Linked DNA regions of Homo sapiens: region 1 is linked to region 2. A link means that fine-mapping ties the variant in region 2 to the expression of a gene that starts in the linked region. Tissue or cell type: whole blood. Region 2 holds a variant in brackets; the other region holds the start of a gene. All regions are shown on one strand. Distances are between the middles of the regions.

What was found. PIP is the estimated chance that this variant, and not a neighbour inherited with it, causes the effect.
Region 1: ACOT4 starts here. The variant in region 2 is fine-mapped to the expression of ACOT4 in whole blood (TOPMed, PIP 0.96).

What each region holds. Positions count from the first base shown.
Region 1 is chr14:73,588,947-73,594,091 of GRCh38, forward strand. ACOT4 (acyl-CoA thioesterase 4) reads left to right here and starts at 2,927. Exons shown (of 3, transcript NM_152331.4): 1 at 2,927-3,470; 2 at 4,756-4,958. The coding sequence starts at 3,014. It also overlaps a transcript of HEATR4 not described here. RefSeq lists an enhancer at 3,161-3,660 and a silencer at 3,472-3,541.
Region 2 is chr14:73,491,894-73,497,038 of GRCh38, forward strand. It overlaps HEATR4 (HEAT repeat containing 4), which reads right to left. Exons shown (of 18, transcript NM_001220484.1): 15 at 4,708-4,786; 16 at 3,335-3,494; 17 at 1,173-1,231. It overlaps RIOX1 (ribosomal oxygenase 1), which reads left to right. Exons shown (of 1, transcript NM_024644.5): 1 at 1-1,501. The coding sequence ends at 1,050. It also overlaps a transcript of ACOT1 not described here. Among named protein-coding and RNA genes, the nearest start is that of RIOX1, 3.5 kb to the left of the region's middle. RefSeq lists an enhancer at 5-505. The variant C/A (reference allele first, on the strand shown) is at 2,273.

The sequences.
Region 1 (5,145 bases), 97 kb after region 2:
TAGCAAAATTGAGCAGAAGGTAGTGATTACCCATATACTCCCTGTGCCCCCCAAAACTTGCATAGTTCCCTTATCTCCACTATCAACATCCCCCACCAGAATGGTACATTTGTTACAATTGATTAACCTTCACTGACATACCATTATCACCCCAAATCTCTAGTTTGCTTTAGGGTTCGTTTGTTCTACATCTACAGTTTTGGACAAATGTATAATGACATGTATCCACCATTACAGTATCATACAGAACAGCTTCACTGCCCTAAAAATTGTTCCAACTATTCATCCCTCCCTCCCCACAATCCCTGGCAACTACTGATCTTTTTACTATCTCCAATACTTTTGCTTTCTCTCTTCCTTCCCTTTTTTCTTTTCTTTTTCCCTTTCCTTTTTTTGAAAGTTTCGCTCTGTCACCGATGCTGTAGTGCAGTGGTATGATCTCAGCTTACTGCAACCTCTGCCTGCCAGGTTCAAGCAATTCTCCTGCCTCAGCCTCCCAGGTAGCTGAGACTACAGGTGCACATCACCATGCCCCACTAATTTTTGTATTGTTAGTGGAGGCGGGTTTCACCATGTTGGACAGGCTCGTCTAGATCTCCCAACCTCAAGCGATCCGCCCAACTCGGCCTCCCACAGCACTGAGATTACAAGTGTGTGCCCCTGTGCCTAGCCTACCTTATATTTCATCAAAAAGCTTTTTTTAAGTAAACTGACATGTATGGCCAGGCACGGCAGGTAGCTCCCACCTATAATCCTGGTGTTTCCAGACTGGTCTTGGTCTCACTGACTTCAACAACGAAGCCACAGACCCTCGCGGAGATGTTACAGTTCTTAAAGGCAGCGTGTCTGGAGATTGTACCTTCTGATGTTCCCATGTGCTCAGAGTTTGTTCCTTCTGGTGGGTTCGTGGTCTTGCTGGCTCAGAAGTGAAGCTGCAAACCTTTGCGGTGAGTGTTACAGCTCTTAAGGCGGCATGTCTGGAGTTGTTCGTTCCTCCTGGTGAGTTCGTGGTCTGGTAGGCTTCAGAAGTGAAGCTGCGGACCTTCGCAATGAGTGTTACAGCTCACAACAGCAGTGCGGGCCCAAAAACTGAGCTACCTTTATTACAAAACTAAATAGAACAAACCTTCCCGCAACGTAGAAAAGAACCCCAACAAGTTGCCACTGCTAGCTCTGGCAGCCTGCTTTTATTCCCTTATCTGGCCCCACCCACATCCTGCTGATTGGCCCATTTTACAGAGAGCCGATTGGTCCGTTTTGACAGGGTGCTGATTGGTTCGTTTACAATCCCTGAGCTAGACACAAAAGTTCTCCACCTCCCCACTAGATTAGCTAGATACAGAGTGCCGATTGGTGTATTCACAAACCCTGAGCTAGACACAGGGTGCTGATTGGTGTGTTTACAATCCCTTAGCTAGACATAAAGATTCTCCAAGTCCCCACCAGACTCAGGAGTCCAGCTGGCTTCACCCAGTGGATGCCGCACGGGGTTCGCAGGTGGAGCTGCCTGCCAGTCCCGCGCCGTGCGCCCGCACTTCTCAGCCCTTGGGCGGTCGATGGGACTGGGCGTTAGTGGAGCAGGGAGCGGAGCTCGTTGAGGAGGCTCGGACCGCGCAGAAGCTCACGGCGGGGGCGGGGGCTCAGGCATGGCGGGCTGCAGGTCCCGAGCCCTGCGCCGCGGGGAGGCAGCTAAGGCCCGCTGAGAAATCGAGCACAGCAGCTGCTGCCCCAGGTGCTAAGCCCCTCACTGCCCGGGGCTTGCGGGCCGGCCGGCCGCTCCAAGTGCGGGGCCGCCGAGCCCACGCCCACCCGGGACTCGCGCTGGCCCGCAAGCCCCGCGGGCAGCCCCGGTTCCCGCCCGCGCCTCTCCCTCCACACCTCCCAGTAAGCTGAGGGAGCCGACTCCGGCCTTGGCCAGCCCAGAAAGGGGCTCCCACAGTGCAGCGGCGGGCTGAAGGGCTCCTCAAGCGCGGCCAGAGTGGGCGCCAAGGCCGAGGAGGCGCCGACAGCGAGCGAGGGCAGCCAGCATGCTGTCACGTATCACTAGCACTTTGGGACTACAGAGGCAGGAGGATAGTTTGTGCTCAGGAGTTCGAGACCAGCCTGGGAAACAGGGTGACACCTCCTCTCTAAAAATAAACATTTAAAAATTAACGTGGCATGGTGGTGCGCTGTCTGTAGTCACAGCTACTCCGAAGGCTGAGACAGGAGGATCACTTGAGCCTGGGAGGTGGAGGCTGCAGTGACCTGTGATCGAGCCACCGCCTTGCAGCCTGGATGACAGAGAGAGACCCTGTCTCAAATACAACAAAAAAGCAGGCCGGGCGCAGCGGCTCACGCCTGTAATCCCTAGCACTTTGGGAGGCCAAGGCGGGAAGATCACTTGAAGTCAGGAGTTCAAGACCAGCCTGGCCAACATGGTGTAACTCCCTCTTTACTAAAAATACAAAAATTAGCGGCATGGTGGCGCGCGCCTGTAATCCCAGGTACTCGGGAGGCTGAGGCAGGAGAATCGCTTGAACCCAGGAGGCGGAGATTGCAGTGAGCCGAAGCGCCACTGCACTCCAGCCTGGGCGACAGAGGAGACTCTGTTTCAAAAAAAAAAAAAGTTAAAAACAAAACCTTCCATGGAGCCCATGAAAGGCTGGAATTTGGCTTGATCTCATTGGCTTTTGGTTTCACCACAAATTGATCATCCAACAACTTTCATTCCAACAACCGAGGGTGGTGTGAGGCAGAGAGGCTTTCTACGGGGTGGGTTGGGCGCCACACCTTGCGCGCCCCGGGGCCCAAGGAGACGACCCTGAAGAGGAGCCTGGCTACTTTTGCCTCAGACGAGTCCGGAGCGCCGGGTTAACCGGTCTGAAGTCCCAGGGGCTTTCTGGGACTGCTCAGCCACCGGCAGCTTCCGGCACCAGGGGACGCCGGACGCCGTCCGGACATTCGGCGCGCTTGCCACGATCTTGGACGGGTCTCGGGCCTCGACCTTTGAATTCCCCGCTCCGGCTCCAAGATGTCAGCAACGCTGATCCTGGAGCCCCCAGGCCGCTGCTGCTGGAACGAGCCGGTGCGCATTGCCGTGCGCGGCCTGGCCCCGGAGCAGCGGGTTACGCTGCGCGCGTCCCTGCGCGACGAGAAGGGCGCGCTCTTCCGGGCCCACGCGCGCTACTGCGCCGACGCCCGCGGCGAGCTGGACCTGGAGCGCGCACCCGCGCTGGGCGGCAGCTTCGCGGGACTCGAGCCCATGGGGCTGCTCTGGGCCCTGGAACCCGAGAAGCCTTTTTGGCGCTTCCTGAAGCGGGACGTACAGATTCCTTTTGTCGTGGAGTTGGAGGTGCTGGACGGCCACGACCCCGAGCCTGGACGGCTGCTGTGCCAGGCGCAGCACGAGCGCCACTTCCTCCCGCCAGGGGTGCGGCGCCAGTCGGTGCGAGCGGGCCGGGTGCGCGCCACGCTCTTCCTGCCGCCAGGTGAGCCAGGCTGCTGGCGGGTGGTGTGAGCGTCAGTGGCCTGAGTCTCCGTTTGTTTCCAGTGCTGATTTAGCACTGGTTTGGTTTTGGAGCAAGATCAGAGAAGCTAACATTGACTATGTCAGTGGCCACTCTACCAAAATAGAGGGTTTGGTACCGGGCGTGGTGACTAACGCCTGTAATCCCAGCACTTTGGGAGGCCGAGATGGGCGGATCACTTGAGATCAGGAGTTTGAGACCAGACTGGCCAGCATGGTGAAACGCTGACTCTACCGAAAATACAAAAATTAGTCCAGCCTGGTGGCACACGCCTGTAGTCCCAGCCACTCGGGAGGCTGAGGCACGAGAATCGCTTGAACCTGGGAGATGGAGGTTGCAGTGAGCCGAGATCGCACCACTGCACTCCAGCCTGGGTGACAGAGCGAGACTCCGTCTCAAAAAAAGAAAAAAGAAAAAAAAGGATTTTTTGTTAGGCTGTGTACTACGGTTTTTACTTGCATTCTATCAGTTAGTCTCTATAATATCCCAATGAAGTTGGTATTGTTATTCTGCAGATGAAAAAACAGGTTCAGGTCGTCAGGTACATTATCCACTTTGCTATTAATCACTACCCTACAGATTTCTACAGGCATCAGCCTGACTTGTCTAAGGCAGAATGATGACAGTGAATGAAGCTATTACCATGTCGTCTTCTCTAGTGTTCTAGGCACACTGTCTCTTCTCCACTTCTTCATGTGCTGCTTTATCACAGGTCACACTTCAGACTCCACTGCCTTTCTCACCTAAAACCATCTCTGGGTATTTCTTTTTCTTTCCTCCCTTTCTACATAGACATCTGAAATATCAGTACACTAAAAACCAGAGGGCTGATGCAACAGAACATAAAGTTTTGTTTCAATCTTTTTTCTTTTCTTTCTTTCTTTTTTTTTTTTTTTTTTTTGAGACAGTGTCTGTCTCTGTTGCCCACGCTGGAGTGCAGTGGTGTGGTCACACCTCACTGCAGCCTTGACCTCTGGGGCTCAAGTGATCCTCCCTCCATTGCCTCCCAAGTAGCTAGGACTACAGGCATACACCACCACACTGACTAATTAAAAAAAAAAAAAGATTGTAGAGATGGGGTCTCACTACATTGTCCAGGCTGGTCTTGAACTCCTGGCCTCAAGCAATCCTCCTGCCTTGGCCTCCTAAAGTGCTGAGATTACAAGCATGAACCACAGTGTCCAGCCAGGAAAGCAAATTCTTTAAATTGTATAATGGCTTACATTTATAATATTTTGTTCTCTAGGACCTGGACCCTTCCCAGGGATCATTGACATCTTTGGTATTGGAGGGGGCCTCTTGGAATATCGAGCCAGCCTCCTTGCTGGCCATGGCTTTGCCACGTTGGCTCTAGCTTATTATAACTTTGAAGATCTCCCCAATAACATGGACAACATATCCCTGGAGTACTTCGAAGAAGCCGTATGCTACATGCTTCAACATCCCCAGGTTCTCCTCATGTCCTTTATTTAATCAGTCTCTCTAGAAATATTTCCATAGAGAGTGTAACCTTTACCACGTGCAGAAATGCTGCTCTGTTCCTCTTTCACAAAGATGTCTTCTGGAGACTTCCTTGGCTTAAGGTGCTATTTCCACTTTTTCTGTCAGATGAATTTGTGATATAGAATTAATTGTA
Region 2 (5,145 bases):
GGCTGCTCCCTGCGTCTCCTCTGTCCGCAGGCTTTCTCTACTACTGTGTGGCAGTTTTTGGCTGTGCTTCAAGAGCAGTTTGGAAGCATGGCAGGCTCCAACGTTTACCTCACGCCCCCTAACTCGCAGGGCTTTGCCCCCCACTACGACGACATCGAGGCCTTCGTGCTGCAGCTGGAAGGTAGGAAACTCTGGCGTGTATACCGACCCCGAGTCCCAACCGAGGAACTGGCTCTGACATCCAGCCCCAACTTCAGTCAGGACGACCTCGGTGAGCCGGTGCTGCAGACCGTGCTGGAACCTGGAGATTTGCTGTATTTTCCTCGGGGCTTCATTCACCAAGCTGAATGCCAGGATGGAGTCCACTCTCTGCACCTCACCTTGTCCACGTACCAGCGCAATACCTGGGGTGACTTCTTAGAGGCCATACTGCCTCTGGCAGTGCAGGCTGCAATGGAAGAAAATGTGGAGTTTCGGAGGGGTCTGCCCCGAGACTTCATGGATTACATGGGGGCCCAGCATTCAGATTCTAAGGATCCGCGAAGAACCGCTTTCATGGAGAAGGTGCGGGTCTTGGTTGCCCGCCTGGGACACTTTGCTCCTGTTGATGCTGTGGCCGACCAGCGAGCCAAAGACTTCATTCACGATTCTCTGCCCCCTGTTTTGACTGATAGGGAGAGGGCACTAAGTGTTTACGGGCTTCCAATTCGCTGGGAGGCTGGAGAACCTGTAAACGTGGGGGCCCAGTTGACAACAGAAACAGAAGTCCATATGCTTCAGGATGGGATAGCTCGGCTGGTGGGTGAGGGGGGCCATTTGTTTCTCTATTACACAGTGGAAAACTCCCGTGTGTATCATCTGGAAGAACCCAAGTGCTTGGAAATATACCCCCAGCAAGCTGATGCCATGGAACTGTTGCTTGGTTCTTATCCAGAGTTTGTGAGAGTGGGGGACCTGCCCTGTGACAGTGTGGAGGACCAGCTGTCCTTGGCAACCACGTTGTATGATAAGGGGCTGCTGCTCACTAAGATGCCTCTAGCCCTAAATTAGTTTCTTGTTGATTGCTGGAAACAAGGCAGTAGTGATTCTCCGCTGCCACTGCTACCTTTTTTTTTTTTTTTTCCTTAAACTCACGTTCTTACCTTGATAAGCATCAGTGTGCTCACATTTACCTTTATCACTGCTTCAGTGTCACAAACCTCGGAAGGTCTTCTAGGAAGAACCATCTCATCTAGGTACAAAAGGAAAAGGAGAAGTTGGAGGTGGAAAAAAAACCCTTGATCCGTGATCATTTCAGAGCACCAACTTCATCACCTTCAGGCTTCAGTGTACTGGGTAACACTGACCATGTCGTTCTGCTTGAGACAGATATTAGATTTTTTTTGGAATTTGGATCTTTCATCTGAGTTCTTTTTCATGGGCGGGTCGGGGTCAGTATCCTGTTTGTTATTGTTAAATTTGTATGAACCTTAGAAAAGTTATTAAAGTGCCAAAGAATGTTTCCCTTTCCTAAGGCTAGATTATTATGTGGGATGGTTCGAAGAAATGCAGGAGCGGGAGGAAGATAGGGAAAATCTATAATGGCTGAAGTGAAAAGCAACCTGGGGTGGTTGTAGCATGTAAAAGGAGCATGTTAATCAACCTCTTAAGGAAGAGACTCTCAGGCTGGGTGCGGTACTCATGCCTGTAATCCTAGCACTTTAGGAGGCCGAGGCGGGTGGATCACCTGAGGTCAGCAGTTTGAGACCAGCCTGGCCAACATGGCAAAACCCCATCTCTAGTGAGAATACAAAAATTAGCCAGGCATAGTGGTGCGTGCCTGTAATCCCAGCTACTAGGGGGGCTGAGGCAGGAGGATCACTTGAACCTGGGAGGTGGAGGTTGCAGTGAGCTGAGATCATGCCACTGCATTCCAGCCTGGGCAACAGAGCGAGACTCCGTCTCAAAAACAAAAACAAAAACAAAAAAGAATCTTATCTGATTGGGACCAGTTCACTAACTTTGGGGATAATTTATGCTATTTAATTATGCAACCCAATTCTAGTAGAAAAATTATTTTCTACCAGCTTGTTCAGTTTTAAGATCATGGTATGTTTTTGCTCACTGTTTGCTTACATCCATGGCTGGCACTGCTGTCATAAGGGCAGCATGTCACCTAGTTGTGCCTTCATAGACCTTAGGCAACCAACTTTTAGCAAGCTGGCCATGAAGGAAGGCTACTGTTCAAGTTACTTTCCACTCTCATTTTTATTCTGGCAGTTCGAAGAAACTT[C/A]CCCAAATCTGACAAGTGAATATTCTCATGGTTGGTGGAAAAGTGCCTGATGTACCAGAAAGAGCACTGGACTTGGAACCAGAAGACCTGGGTTTGGGGTGGTAGCTGGTAGGCAGCTGGCTGAGTGACCTGAGGCTGATGCTACGCTCAGGCACACAGATTTTGTAAGTATATTTTGGTACAGTTTGATTTCTGCACCCTCATCATTTAGGTTGCGTCTGGGACTCTTAAGAGTCTGTCACCATAATGGATAGTTTTCTGTTATTTAAGGTTGAGAACTTTACAAATTCTTTTTAAAAAAGTTACAAAAGCATAGACATACACTAAGTAAAAATGATAGTTCTCCCTCCAACCCCACTTTCCAGAGACAAGCACTATTTTTTGTTTGTTTGTTTTTTTGTTTGAGACAGGGTCCCACTTTGTTGCCCAGGCTGGGGTACAGTGGTGAGATATTGGGTTACTGCAGCCTCAACCTCCTGGGCTCAAGCAATCCTCCCATCTCAGCCTCCTTAGTAGATAGGACTACCAGTGTGTGCCACCACACCCAGATAATTTTTATTTATTTATTTTTTTGTAGAGATGGAGGGGTCTTGCTATGTTGCCCAGACTGGTTTTGAACTCCTGGCCTGGGGTGATCCTCCCACCATGGCCTCCCAAAGCACTGAGAGTCCAGGTGTGCGCCACCACGCCCAACCACCAACCACTACCACTATTAAGGTTAAGCTCATAAAGCTTTTTTGAGTGCTTAGTCAAACATACATGGTAGTATTGTTTTATAAAGACTTGTGTTTTTCTGATATGTCCTTTTTTGACCTAACTTTTAAGTCAGTTCAAATAGAGATAACTTTTTTTTAAGGGAGAAAATAAATGAATAAAAACCCGAGAAACAAACAAACAAAAAAAAAACACAAAGACTGAGTGGATGGTAGCCAAGAGGGAAGAGAGTACCCTTTCCTGACTCTTTCATCCTCTAAGGCTTGCTACTAAGTCCCAAAACATCCAGATCCTGGAAGAGGCTTATTAAAGGAATCAAGGCATGGAACTCACCCCTAGGAAACCTACCCTGAAAAGTTTCTTGGAGTAAAGTCTGGAGTGTTAGTGGTCCTTGTTCTCCTTTGGGTTTCAAGTAAACACGTTTTGCTTCCTCCCTCACTTTTCCCATGACCATCTCCAGCTTGAGTATTTTGTGTGTCAGCAAGTCCTTTTGGCTTAGTGTTTTAATCTAAATTAGAACAAATAATGTTTGAAAAACAAAACAAAACACCTGTACTAGGCAGCAAATTATCAAAAAACATTAATAAAGTGATTGTAGGAGGCTGAGGAGGGAGGATCACTTGAGCCCAACAGTTCAAGGCTACAGTGAGCTGTGATCATGCCACTGCACTCCAGCCTGGGCAACAAAGTGAGACCCTGTCTCTAGAAAATAAAGAAGTAACTAATTGCATATGCTTATCAGTAGTAGGTGGTACATAAGTGCCTGAGAACATTGTTCTCTTATGATATTGGTTGGAGATTTTTTATACCTGTTCGTGAAAATTTTACTTCAGCTTTTTGGGCATGATGAACCTGCTAAGAATTGCTTGCTTGATGTGAAGTTGGTTTCTTGAATTACCTTTTTAAAGTCCTTTCCCCTCTATTCCTTCATCTTATCTAACAGCTTTGAAAAATTAGAACAATCCAGGCCAGGCATGATGGCTCATGCCTGTAATCCCAGCACTTTGGGAGGCTGAGGCGGGTGGATCACTTGAGGCCAGGAGTTCAAGACCAGCCTGGCCAACATAGCAAAACCTTGTCTCCACTAAAAATACAAAAAAATTAGTTGGGTGTGGTGGCACATGCCTATAATCCCAGCTATTTTGGTGGCTGAGGCACGAGAATCACTTGAACCCAGGAGGTGGAGGTTGCAGTGAGCCAAGATCACACCACTGCACTCCAGCCTGGGCGACAGAGCGAGACTGTCCCCCCCTCAAAAAAAAAAGCAAAAATTATGTTAATCCTTTCAGCTAGAGATTTTCTTTGGTGAGAAAACCCAGATTAGGAATTCAGAAAAATTAAGAAGAAAATCTAGGGGGCCAGCTCTAGTCCCTTATTCCTTCTCTATGCCTATTTGAAAAAAAGGAAAAATAAACAACTTGGGTTTGGGGTTGATGGGGAGAAAATAGGAAGGGAGGGAAATAGTATTTCTGAAACAATGAGGGTTACTTGATAGGACTAATAGGATTTTTGTTTTGTTTTTGTCTTTACTAGTAGGACCTTGTAACCCAATCTTGCACAGATGCTTTGCATCTTCAAATGATGTGGCATCTGTGTCTGGGGTTTTAGAAAGTACTTCTATGGTGGGAAAAAGGGTATGTACATGTTTGAGGAGGACAGGGTCTGAGGAACTCTTGAGAGTCCTGAATTTTCTCTTGAGAACAGAGCTTGCACTTATTTACCCTGTTCTTGATCTCCTGAAGCATTTCTTGGTTTCCTTCATTTCCTAAGTTGAGTATCTTCATTGTCTGGTACATTTCTCTGAAAGATAAGAAGGGCTTCTTAGATTATTCTACCCTGCCCTTTAAAAAAGTATGGGGGTAGAAAATATAGGACTTGGAATCAGGTAAGAATCCCAAGTTCCAATCCTAACTGTGCAGTTTTGCTGAGCCTTATATGCAAAAATGGTATAATGCTTAGCTTACAGGAATAATGTGCAGTTTTTGAGACAATATATTTGTGGGTTTTTTGTTTACTTTTTGTTTTTGCGAGATGGAGTCTTGCTCTGTTTCCCAGAGCTGGAGTGCAATGGCACGATCTCGTCTCGGCTCACTGCAACCTCCACCTCCCAGGTTCAAGCGATTCTCCTGCCTCAGCCTCCTGAGTTGCTGGGACTACAG